Regions from separate parts of the Homo sapiens genome. Here region 2 is linked to region 1. Evidence: fine-mapped expression QTL. A gene starts in region 1. The other region holds a variant in brackets. All regions are shown on one strand. Distances are between the middles of the regions.

Region 1 (5,384 bases):
AACATCTAAATTATGTTAGTAGATTACCTAATATTGAACCATCCGTACATTTTTGGAATAAATGTCACTTGGTCATGATGTTTTATTTTTATGACGAGTTCTTGGGTTCTGTTTGCTAATATGTTTAGATTTTTCTGTATTCATAAGTGAGATTGATCTATAGTTTATTTTTTGTACTATATTTATATGGTTTAGGTGACAACATATTTCTTGTTTCATAAAACTTTCTTGTGGCTTTTCTTGTTTTTCTATACTCAAATGATTTAAGTAGCATTGGGAGTATATGATCTTTGAAGACTTAGGAGAATTCTTTTGTGAAATCTAGGCCTAGTCCTTCTGTAATAGCCTTCTCCATTTAGTCTATGGAAACTGGAAGCCCTTGTGTGATTTTGCAAAGCAGAATGTTCCCATTGCCTACAGTAGCTTCACTCTTCTTTACAGAGCAAGTAGCTATATTCTCTAGGTCTGGCTCATATATCATCTTCTCACTCCACCCCTCACTGCAGGACAGAATCAATCTCTATCTTATTTTAATTGCTTCCATAATATTATATTTGTCTTATAGATCTCATCAAATTTGTATTGTAGCATACCTACTTTTGGAGGTATACATTTCTTTCTCCAGTCTCTAAAAGACAGACACTGATTTGACCACATTTAATTCTTCAGCCCCCAAAATATTGGTCAGGCTTTCATAGGTATTCAATAAATATATTTTGAATAATAATCATGGAAGGAAGGAAAGAAATAATGGAAGACAAGACCACTATAGTAGGAACCATAGTCTTTTTTTTTTTTGAAACAGAGTCTTGCTCTGTCACCCAGGCTGGAGTACAGTGACACAATCTCAGCTCACTGTAACCTCTGCCTCCCGGCTTCAAGGAATTCTCTTGCCTCAGCCTCCCTGAGTAGCTGGGACTACAGGTGTGCACCACCACACCCAGCTAATTTTTGTATTTTTAGTAGAGATGGGGTTTCACCATGTTTACCAGGCTGGTATCGAACTCCTGACCTAAAGTGATCGTCCGGTTTGGCCTCCTAAAGTGCTGGGATTACAGGCATGAGCCACCACGCCTGGCCGGAACCATAGTCTATTAATAAAGTATGTGGACTCTAAGTCAGATCCACTGGAGTTTCTCCCCCAGTTCATCACTGACAAGTGTGTGACATTGGCTGGTTACTTTCTGAGTTTTGTTCTACTCATCTACAGGTAAAGTTTCATAAGGGATTTGTATTCTGAACATGTATACAATTCTTAACATTAAGTACTGTATGTTCCCAATAGATAATACTTTCTCTCTTACTTCTCCCCATAGGAAAGACTGCATTGTAGTTCTTTGGACAATTCCTGGAGAAATCATGAGATATGACTCTCTCACTTGTAGAATCACAGCAAAGGCTCCGTCCTACTGGTAAGTAGTTCCCTCTGAAATTGCCTGAATGAATGAAATTCTCCAGTTCAGGTGAACAACTCTGAGGATATGCAGGAATGTGTTGTGCTTCTGAGATTTTTACAACATTTGTTTTACAGAGGAAAGTTTACATTAGTTTAACATAGTTAGGAAACATGCCGTCTACTGGAGTAGAATACATTGTATTCTGAACAGTTTAGCAGTCCTCATACTTGGGCTTTCTTCCCAGTTCTTGTGCTATTTTCCCAGACAGCAAATTAATTAAATGGCCTTTGGCCATGACTCTTTCCCTTGAGTCAGCTTTTCTGTCATTTAAAGTGTACAGATAGGGGGGATTTAATTAGCCCAATGCCTGGCACATTGCATGCACTCAATAAATGTTTGTTGAGTATTCGAGTTATCTCTAGATGAAGGTCACTTTTGCTATTACTATTAATTTATAAGCATATCAGTAATTCTTGTGCTGATAATATTGACAGTGAACAAGCACTTAAAAGAAAAGTTAACTCATAACTTATAGGGATGTATCATGAGAATTCAGATAGTCAACAACCTATCTATTTTGAACATATTCACTATTCTTCTAATGTTCTAAGGCTCTAATTCTACACTTGAAGCTCAGATGATTCTAAGATAGTGAGGAACTGCAGCAACTATCTGGATATTTTCTCTGCAATGCGTGTGTGTGTGTGTGTGTGTGTGTGTGTGTGTGTGTGTGTGTGTCTGTCTGTCTGGTCTGTGTAAGCCCCGACTAAATATAGAGCCCCCATTCTTTGTGTAAGCTACTTAAGAGAAAGGATTTTATCTTCTAATTTTTATCTCTTCAGCAGAAGTTATTATTGCTAGTTCAATCCCAAATCTATACATAAATTACGAAGTTTAATAACCCCTTAAAAATAAGCTTTTTAAAAATATTTTTCCTGAAATAATGTTTTACTGACCTTGAAAATTTTTCTTAGCTGTTGTCATGCTCAACATTTCTCACTGATGACATATGTGGTGATGATGGTAGTGTAAAGAAAAAGCTTGAGGAAATACACACGGTGCTGATATTTTACTAAAATGAATGTAGCACTCACTCATAATTGTAATTTAATTTTTAAGTAAAAATCTGATTTTCCACTATCATTCCCTTAAGTCTGGCTCATTATAGGCCTAAAGCCTGTATGAATTTACACAGCTGCTTTGAGGCTTTGCATATTTCCTTGTTTTCGATTGTTTGATTTTTTTTTAAAGGGGTATTTTTGCACTGAAGTAAAACACAACTATTAACACTAGCCTCGGGGGAAAAAGAAACTAACAAACCTACAGCTTGAAATGTTTCAACACTTTGCATTTAAAATTTTGCGCACCCTTTAGAAGTTACAAAAATAAAAGCCACTCCCTGCAAAAAAAAAAAAGAAAAAAAGATTGAGAACAAACTGTCATGATTTCAGAAAACGATAGCAGACGTGCAGGTGCTAATACCAGAGAGCTTACCTCCGAATAAAATGGTGCCTTCTAAACAGCGACTATTTACATGTTTTAGAATCCTTTCTTGGGCATGGGTGCCTTTATATTGCCCTATTACCACAAGATGCAAGCCGTGCAGCAGAATGTTTTCTGTATGGTACCCAGCCAAAAGTGAAACAAGTTGCCCACTGACAGAGAGGCCATTTATAGAACATATTCATTTACACCAGTGCTAGGCAGCAACTGAAAGGCAATGCAAAGAAGTAATTTCTCTTTACCTTGCTTGGAGCAACTCTGACCTGGAGAGCCATGTACACATCCTACGTCAAGGAGGTGATGAAAGCCCCACTCCTTATAGCGATGACATCTGGAAGAAGACACAATTGTCACCGTGAGCTTTTCAATTACTCCTGGAGACTAAGTGTGAGACGCAGTAGTGCAGGATGATTGGATTACGCAAAACGAGACAGATGCCATCTGTGAGCCACGCGTAAGCTGCTAAGTGCCAAAATGAACATCCTTATTAAACGATGGAGTTCTCATACCATTTGTAGTTTGGTCAGATTTGAAAGATGAGTTGATTGTTTTTAGATAGTGCGGCAAATAGGCAGGGACTTGGAATCCTCTCTGGCTGTATGAGTAATTACTGTCTCATACTTAAATTAGAAACATGGGTTTTCAGTTAGGTCTTGAGATTGTTTCCAAAGGATGCTGCTGCATTCATGTTGAAGCGTGGCCTGTCCTCTCTGTTTCACTCACAAGGGCCACAGAGTTCTGAGAAAGAAATCATCAGTTCCTTTCACATCATGGCAAAGAAATGTAAAACTTATGACTTTTTGTTAGGAAACAAAAGGGTTCCCATACTCTAAAATAATGGCCACAATATTGTGGGTAGAATGTTTTCAAGAACTGCCAGGAGGCAGTATTGGAGCTCTGTCTCTCTGCGTCCTGAGGCTCCAGAACCAATCCTTCATTTACAATTCATTCTCCCATCTTTTTACTGGCACCAACTCTATTATTATTTTTATTTTAATTTTTAATTGCTGTGATTACATAGTAATATAGTAATATACCCCATAGAGTTTATGGGGTACATGATATATTTTGATATAGGCATCTAATATGTAATGATCACATCAAGGTAAGTGGGATTTCCATCACCTCAAGCATTTATTCTTTGTGTTACAAGCAATCCAATTATACCCTTTTAGTTATTTTTAAATGTACAATTAAATTATTATTGACTATAGTCACTCTGTTGTGCTATCAAATACTAGATCTTATACATTCTCTCTCTTTTTTGTATGCATTAACCATCCCCACACTCCCCCTTTTCTCCCACTACCCTTCCCAGCTTCTGGTAACCATTCTTTTACTTTCCATCTCAATGAGTTCAATTGTTTCCATTTTTAGTTCCCACAAATAAGTAGGAACATATGAAGTTTGTCTTTCTGTGCCTGGTTTATTTCACTTAACATAAGGACCTCCAGTTCCATCCATATTGTTGCAAATGACAGGATTTCATTCTTTCCTTTGGCTGAATTCTATTCTGTACCTGTACCACATTTCTTTATCCACTTGTCTGTTGATGGACATTTAGGTTGTTTCTTAATCTTGGATATTGTGAAACATGCTGCAATATACATGGGCATGCAGATACCTCTCCGATAGACTGATTTCCATTCTTTGGGGTATATGCTCAGCAGTGGGATTGCTGGATCATATGGCAGTCCTATTTTTCTCTTTTGAGGAACCTCCAAACTGTTCTCCATAGTGGCTGTACTAATTTACATTCCCACCAGCAGTGTATGAGGGTGTCCTTTTCTTCACATCCTCACCAGCATTTGTTATTGCCTGTTTTGGGATAAAAGCCATTTTAACTGGGGTGAAGTCATATCTCTTTGTAGTTTTGATTTGCCTTTCTCTGATGATCGATGATGTTGAGCACTTCTCACATACCAGTTTGCCATTTGTATGTCTTGTTCTGAGAAATGTCTATTCAGATATTTTGATCATTTTTAAATCATATTATTAGATTTTTTCCTCTACAGTTGTTTGAGCTCCTTATATATTCTGGTTGTTAGCCCCTTGTCAGATGGGTAGTGTTTGAGTATTTTTTTTCCCATTCTGCGGGTTGGTGTCTTCACTTTGTTGATTGATTGCTTTGCTGTGGCACCAACTTTAGATGGGAACTTAGCTGTGCCCTGTAATCCTTTTTCCATTACAGCATCTTGTTAACCGCTATAAAGAGCACATTCTGCAATATCTACCTGCATACCAAAAGCAAAGGTGAAAAGAGTGCCTTCAGCAAGTCCAGGCCTTGATAGTTTTCATCTGAATATGTTATTGAATTTGACATTCATAATGCATATTAATAACACTGTCAATGCTCTTTTATTAATATACCTTAGATAAATCTTTTAATGTGTGGTTGCCCTGTTCTCTGCTTATATTGTGAGTTCTTGCAGAAAAAGACTTTTCTGCCTGCTGGTAACATTGTAACAGCTCCCAGTGTTGTCT
Region 2 (5,384 bases), 23 kb before region 1:
TCAAGGCCACACTGGGCAATATAGCAAGACTCTGTCTCTAAAAGAAATTGAAAAAAACTTAGCCTGGCATAATAGTGTGCTCCATAGTCCTAGCTACTCAGGAGGTGGAGATGGGAGGATCTCTTGAGTGCAGGAGTTTGAAGTTACAATGAGCTATGATCATGCCACTGCACTGCACTCGAGACTGGGTGACAGAGTGAATCTCTGTCTCTTAAAAAAAAAAAAAAAGAGTTATGGAGTCACTTCCAAGATGGCTGAATAGGAACAGCTCTGGTTTGCAGCTCCCAGTGAGATCGACGCAGAAGATGGGTGATTTCTGCATTTCCAATTAAGGTACCTGGTTCATCTCATTGGGACTGGTTGGACAGTGGGTGCAGCCCATGGAGGGCAAGCTGAAGCAGGGCAGGGTGTTGCCTCACCCGGGAAGCACAAGGGGTGGGGCGATTTCCCTTTCCTAGCTAAGGGAAGCCATGACAGACTGTATGTGGAGAAACAGTGCACTCCTGACAAAATACTGCACTATTCCCATAGTCTTAGCAACCGTCAGACCAGGAGATACCCTCCCATGCCTGGTTCGGCAGGTCCCACACCCACGGAGCCTTGCTCACTGCTAGTGCAGCAGTCTGAGATAGACCTGCGACGCTGCATCTTGATGTGGAGATGGGCGTCTGCATTGCTGAGGCTTGAGTAGCTCACAGTGTAAACAAAGAGGCCTGGAAGCACGAACTGGGTGGAGCACACCACAGCTCAGCAAGGCCTACTGCCTCTATAGATTCTACCTCTTGGGGTAGGGCATAGTAGAACAAAAGGCAGCAGTCAGCTTCTGCAGATTTAAACGTCCCGTCTGACAGCTCTGAAGAGAGCAGTTGTTCTCTCAGCATGGCATTCGAGCTCCGAGAACAGACAGACTGCCTCCTCAAATGAGTCCCTGACCCCCGTGTAGCCTGACTGGGAAACACCTCCCAGTAGGGGCCGACAGACACCTCAAACAGGCAGGTGCCCCTCTGGGACGAAGCTTCCAGAGGAAGGATCAGGCAGCAATATTTGCTGTTCTGCAGCCTCCACTGGTGATACCTAGGCAAACAGGGTCTGGAGTGGACCTCCAGCAAACCCCAACAGATCTGCAGCTGAGGGGTCTGACTGTTAGAGGGAAAACTAACAAACAGAAAAAAATAGCAACAAGATCAACAAAAAGGACATCCACCTCAAAACCCCATCTGTAGGTCACCAACATCAAAGACCAAAGGTAGATAAAACCACAAAGATGGGGAGAAACCAGAGAAGAAAAGCTGAAAATTTTAAAAAACAGAGCACCTCTTCTCCTCCAAAGGATCACAGCTCCTCGCCAGTGAGGGAACAAAACTGGGTGGAGAATGAGTTTGACGAGTTGACAGAAGTAGGCTTCAGAAACCTACTTGGTAATAACAAACTTCTCTGAGATAAAGGAGCATCTTCTAACCCATTGCAAGGAAGCTAAAAACCTTGAAAAAAGATTAGATGAATGGCTAACTAGAATAAACAGTGTGGAGATGATGTTAAATGACCTGATGGAGCTGAAAACCATGGAATGAGAACTTTGTGATGCATGCATAAGCTTTAATAGGTAATTCCATCAAGTGGAAGAAAGGATATCAGTGACTGAAGATCAAATTAATGAAATAAAGTGAGAAGACAAGATTAGAGAAAAAAGAGTGAAAAGAAATGAACAAAGCCTCCAAGAAATATAGGACTGTGTGAAAAGACCAAATATACATTTGGTGGGTGTACCTGAAAGTGATAGGAGAATGGAACCAAGTTAGAAAACACTCTTCAGGATATCATCCAGGAGAACTTCCCTAACCTAGCAAGGCAGGCCAACATTCAAATTCAGAAAATAGAGAGACACCACAAAGATACTCTTCGAGAAGAGCAATTCGAAGACATATAATTGTCAGATTCGCCAAGGTTGAAATGAGGGAAAAAATGTTAAGGGCAGCCAGAGAGAAAGGTTGGGTTACCCACAAAGGGAAGCCCATCAGACTAACAGTGGATCTCTTGGCAGAAACCCTACAAACCAGAAAAGAGTGGGGGCCAATATTCAACATTCTTAAAGAAAAGAATTTTCAACCCAGAATTTCATATCCAGTCAAACTAAGCTTCATAAGTGAAGGAGAATTAAAATCCTTTACAGAGAAGCAAATGCTGAGAGATTTTGTCACCACCAGGCCTGCCTTACAAGAGGTACTGAAGGAAGCACTAAACATGGAAAGGAACAACAGGTACTAGCCACTGCAAAAACATGCCAAATGGTAAAGACTTTAGACGCTATGAAGAAACTGCATCAATTAACAGGCAAAATAACCAGCTAACATAATAATGACAGGATTAAATTCAAACATAACAGTATTAACCTTAAATGTAAATGGGCTAAATGCCCCAATTAAAATATACAGACTGGCAAATTGGATAAAGAGTCAAGATCCATCAGTGTGCTGTATTCAAGAGACCCATCTCATGTGCAAAGACGCACATAGGCTCAAAATAAAGGGATGGAGGAAGATCTACCAAGCAAATGGAAAGCAAAAAAAGCGGGTTACAATCTTAGTCTCTGATACAACAGACTTTAAACCAACAAAGATCAAAAGAGACAAAGAAGGCCACTACATAATGCTAAAGGGATCAATTCAACAAGAAGAGCTAACCATCCTAAATATATATGCACACAATATAGGAGCATTCGGATTAATAAAGCAAGTCCTTAGGGACCTACAAAGAGACTTAGACTCCCACACAATAATAATGGTAGACTTTAACACCCCACTGTCAATATTAGACAGATCAACAAGACAGAAGGTTAACAAGGATATCCAGGATTTGAACTCAGCTCTGCACCAGGCAGACCTAATAGACATCTACCGAATTCTACACCCCAAATCAATGGAATATACATTCTTCTCAGCACCACATCGCACTTACTCTAAAATTCACCACATAATTGGTAGTAAAACACTCCTCAGCAAATGTAAAAGAACAGAAATCACAACAAACTGTCTCTCAGACTGATCTCTCAGATCACAGTGCAATCAAATTAGAACTCAGGATTAAGAAACTCACTCAAAACCTCACAACTACATGGAAACTGAACAACCTGCTCCTGAATGACTA[C/G]TGGGTACATAACAAAATGAAGGCAGAAATAAAGATGTTCTTTGAAACCAATGAGAACAAAGACACAATGTATCAGAATCTCTGGGACACATTTAAAGCAGTATGTAGAGGGAAATTTATAGCACTAAATGCCCACAAGAGAAAGCAGGAAAGAGCTAAAATTGACACCCTAACATCACAATTAACAATAGAGAAGCAAGAGCAAAAAAATTCAAAAGCTAGCAGAAGGCAAGAAATAACCAAGATCAGAGCAGAACTGAAGGAGATGGAGACACAAAAACCCTTCAAAAAAATCAGTGAATCCAGGAGCTGGTTTTTTGAGAAGATCAACAAAATAGACCACTAGCAAGACTAATAAAGAAGAAAAGAGAGAAGAATCAAATAGATGCAATAAAAAATGATAAGGGGGATATCACCACCGATCCCACAGAAATACAAACTACCATCAGAGAATATTATAAACACCTCTGTGCAAATAAACTAGAAAATCTAGAAGAAATGGATAAATTCCTGGACACATACACCCTCCCAAGACTAAATCAGGAAGAAGCTGAATCTCTGAATAGACCAATAACAGGTTCTGAAATAGAGGAAATAATTAATGGCCTATCAACCAAAAAAAGTCCATGACCAGATGGATTCATAGCCAAATTCTACCAGAGGTACAAAGAGGAGCTGGTACCATTCCTTCTGAAAGTATTCCAATCAATAGAAAAGAGAGAATCCTCCCTAACTCATTTCATGAGGCTAGCATCATCCTGATACCAAAGCCTGGTAGAGACACAACAGAAAAGGAGAACTTCAAGCCAATATTTCTGATGAACATCAACGCAAAAATCCTCAGTAAAATACTGTCAAACCGAATCCAGCAGCACATAAAAAAGTTTATCCACCATGAACAAGCTGGCTTCATCCCTGGGATGCAAGGCTGGTTCAACATATTCAAATCAATAAACGTAATCCATCATGTAAACAGAACCAATGACAAAAACCACATGATTGTCTCAATAGATGCAGAAAAGGCCTTCAACAAAATTCAATAGCCCTTCATGCTAAAAACTCTCAATAAACTAGGTATTGATGGAACGCGTCTCAAAATAAAAAGAGCTATTTATGACAAACCCACAGCCAATGTCATACTGAATGGGCAAAAACTGGAAGCATTCCCTTTGAAAACTGGCACAAGAAAAGGATGCCCTCTCTCAGCACTCCTATTCAACATAATGTTGGAAGTTCTGGCCAGGGCAATCAGGCAAGAGAAAGAAATAAAGCGTATTCAATTAGGAAAAGAGGAAGTCAAATTATCTCTGTTTGCAGATGACATGATTGTATATTTAGAAAACCCCATTGTCTCAGCCCAAAGTCTCCTTAAGCTGATAAGCAACTTCAGCAAAGTCTCAGGATACAAAATCAACATGGAAAAATCACAAGCATTCCTATACACAAATAATAGACAAACAGAGAGCCAAAACATGAGTGAACTCCCATTCACAATTGCTACAAAGATAATAAAATACCTAGGAATCTAACTTACAAGGAATGTGAAGGACCTCTTCAAGGAGAACTACAAACCACTGCTCAATGAAATAAAAGAGGACACAAACAAATGGAAGAACATTCCATGCTCATGAATAGGAAGAATCAGTATCGTGAAAATGGCCATACTGCCCAAAGTAATTTATAGATTCAATGCCATCCCCATCAAGCTACCAATGACTTTCTTCACAGAATTGGAAAAAACTACTCTAAAGTTCATATGGAACCAAAAAAGAGCCCACATAGCCAAGACAATCCTAAGCAAAAAGAACAAAGCTGGAGGCATCACGCTACCTGACTTCAAACTATGCTACACAGCTACAGTAACCAAAACAGCATGGTACTGATACCAAAACAGATATATAGACCAATGGAACAGAACAGAGGCCTCAAGAATAACACCACACATCTACAACCATGTGATCTTTGACAAACCTGACAAAAACAAGAAATGGGGAAAGGATTCCCTATTTAATAAATGGTGCTGGGAAAACTGGCTAGCCATATGCAGAAAACTGAAACTGGATGGCTTCCCTACACCATAAACAAAAATTAACTCAAGATGGATAAAGACTTAAATGTAAGACCTAACACCATAAAAACCCTAGAAGAAAACCTAGGCAATATCATTTAGGAGATAGTCATGGGCAAAGACTTCATGACTAAAACCCCAAAAGCAATGGCAACAAGAGCTGAAATAGACA

Evidence for each region. PIP is the estimated chance that this variant, and not a neighbour inherited with it, causes the effect. A credible set is the group of variants that fine-mapping cannot tell apart.
Region 2: its variant is the best candidate, but not a certain one, in a credible set for the expression of TMEM244 in whole blood (TOPMed, PIP 0.54).

Annotation. Positions count from the first base shown.
Region 1 is chr6:129,858,014-129,863,397 of GRCh38, forward strand. It overlaps TMEM244 (transmembrane protein 244), which reads right to left and starts at 3,302. Exons shown (of 5, transcript NM_001010876.2): 1 at 3,143-3,302. The coding sequence starts at 3,175. LOC105377999 (a long non-coding RNA gene) reads left to right here. Exons shown (of 8, transcript XR_942986.3): 2 at 1,317-1,412.
Region 2 is chr6:129,835,192-129,840,575 of GRCh38, forward strand. All of the region lies in intron 3 of TMEM244 (transmembrane protein 244), which reads right to left. Among named protein-coding and RNA genes, the nearest start is that of TMEM244, 23 kb to the right of the region's middle. The variant C/G (reference allele first, on the strand shown) is at 3,145.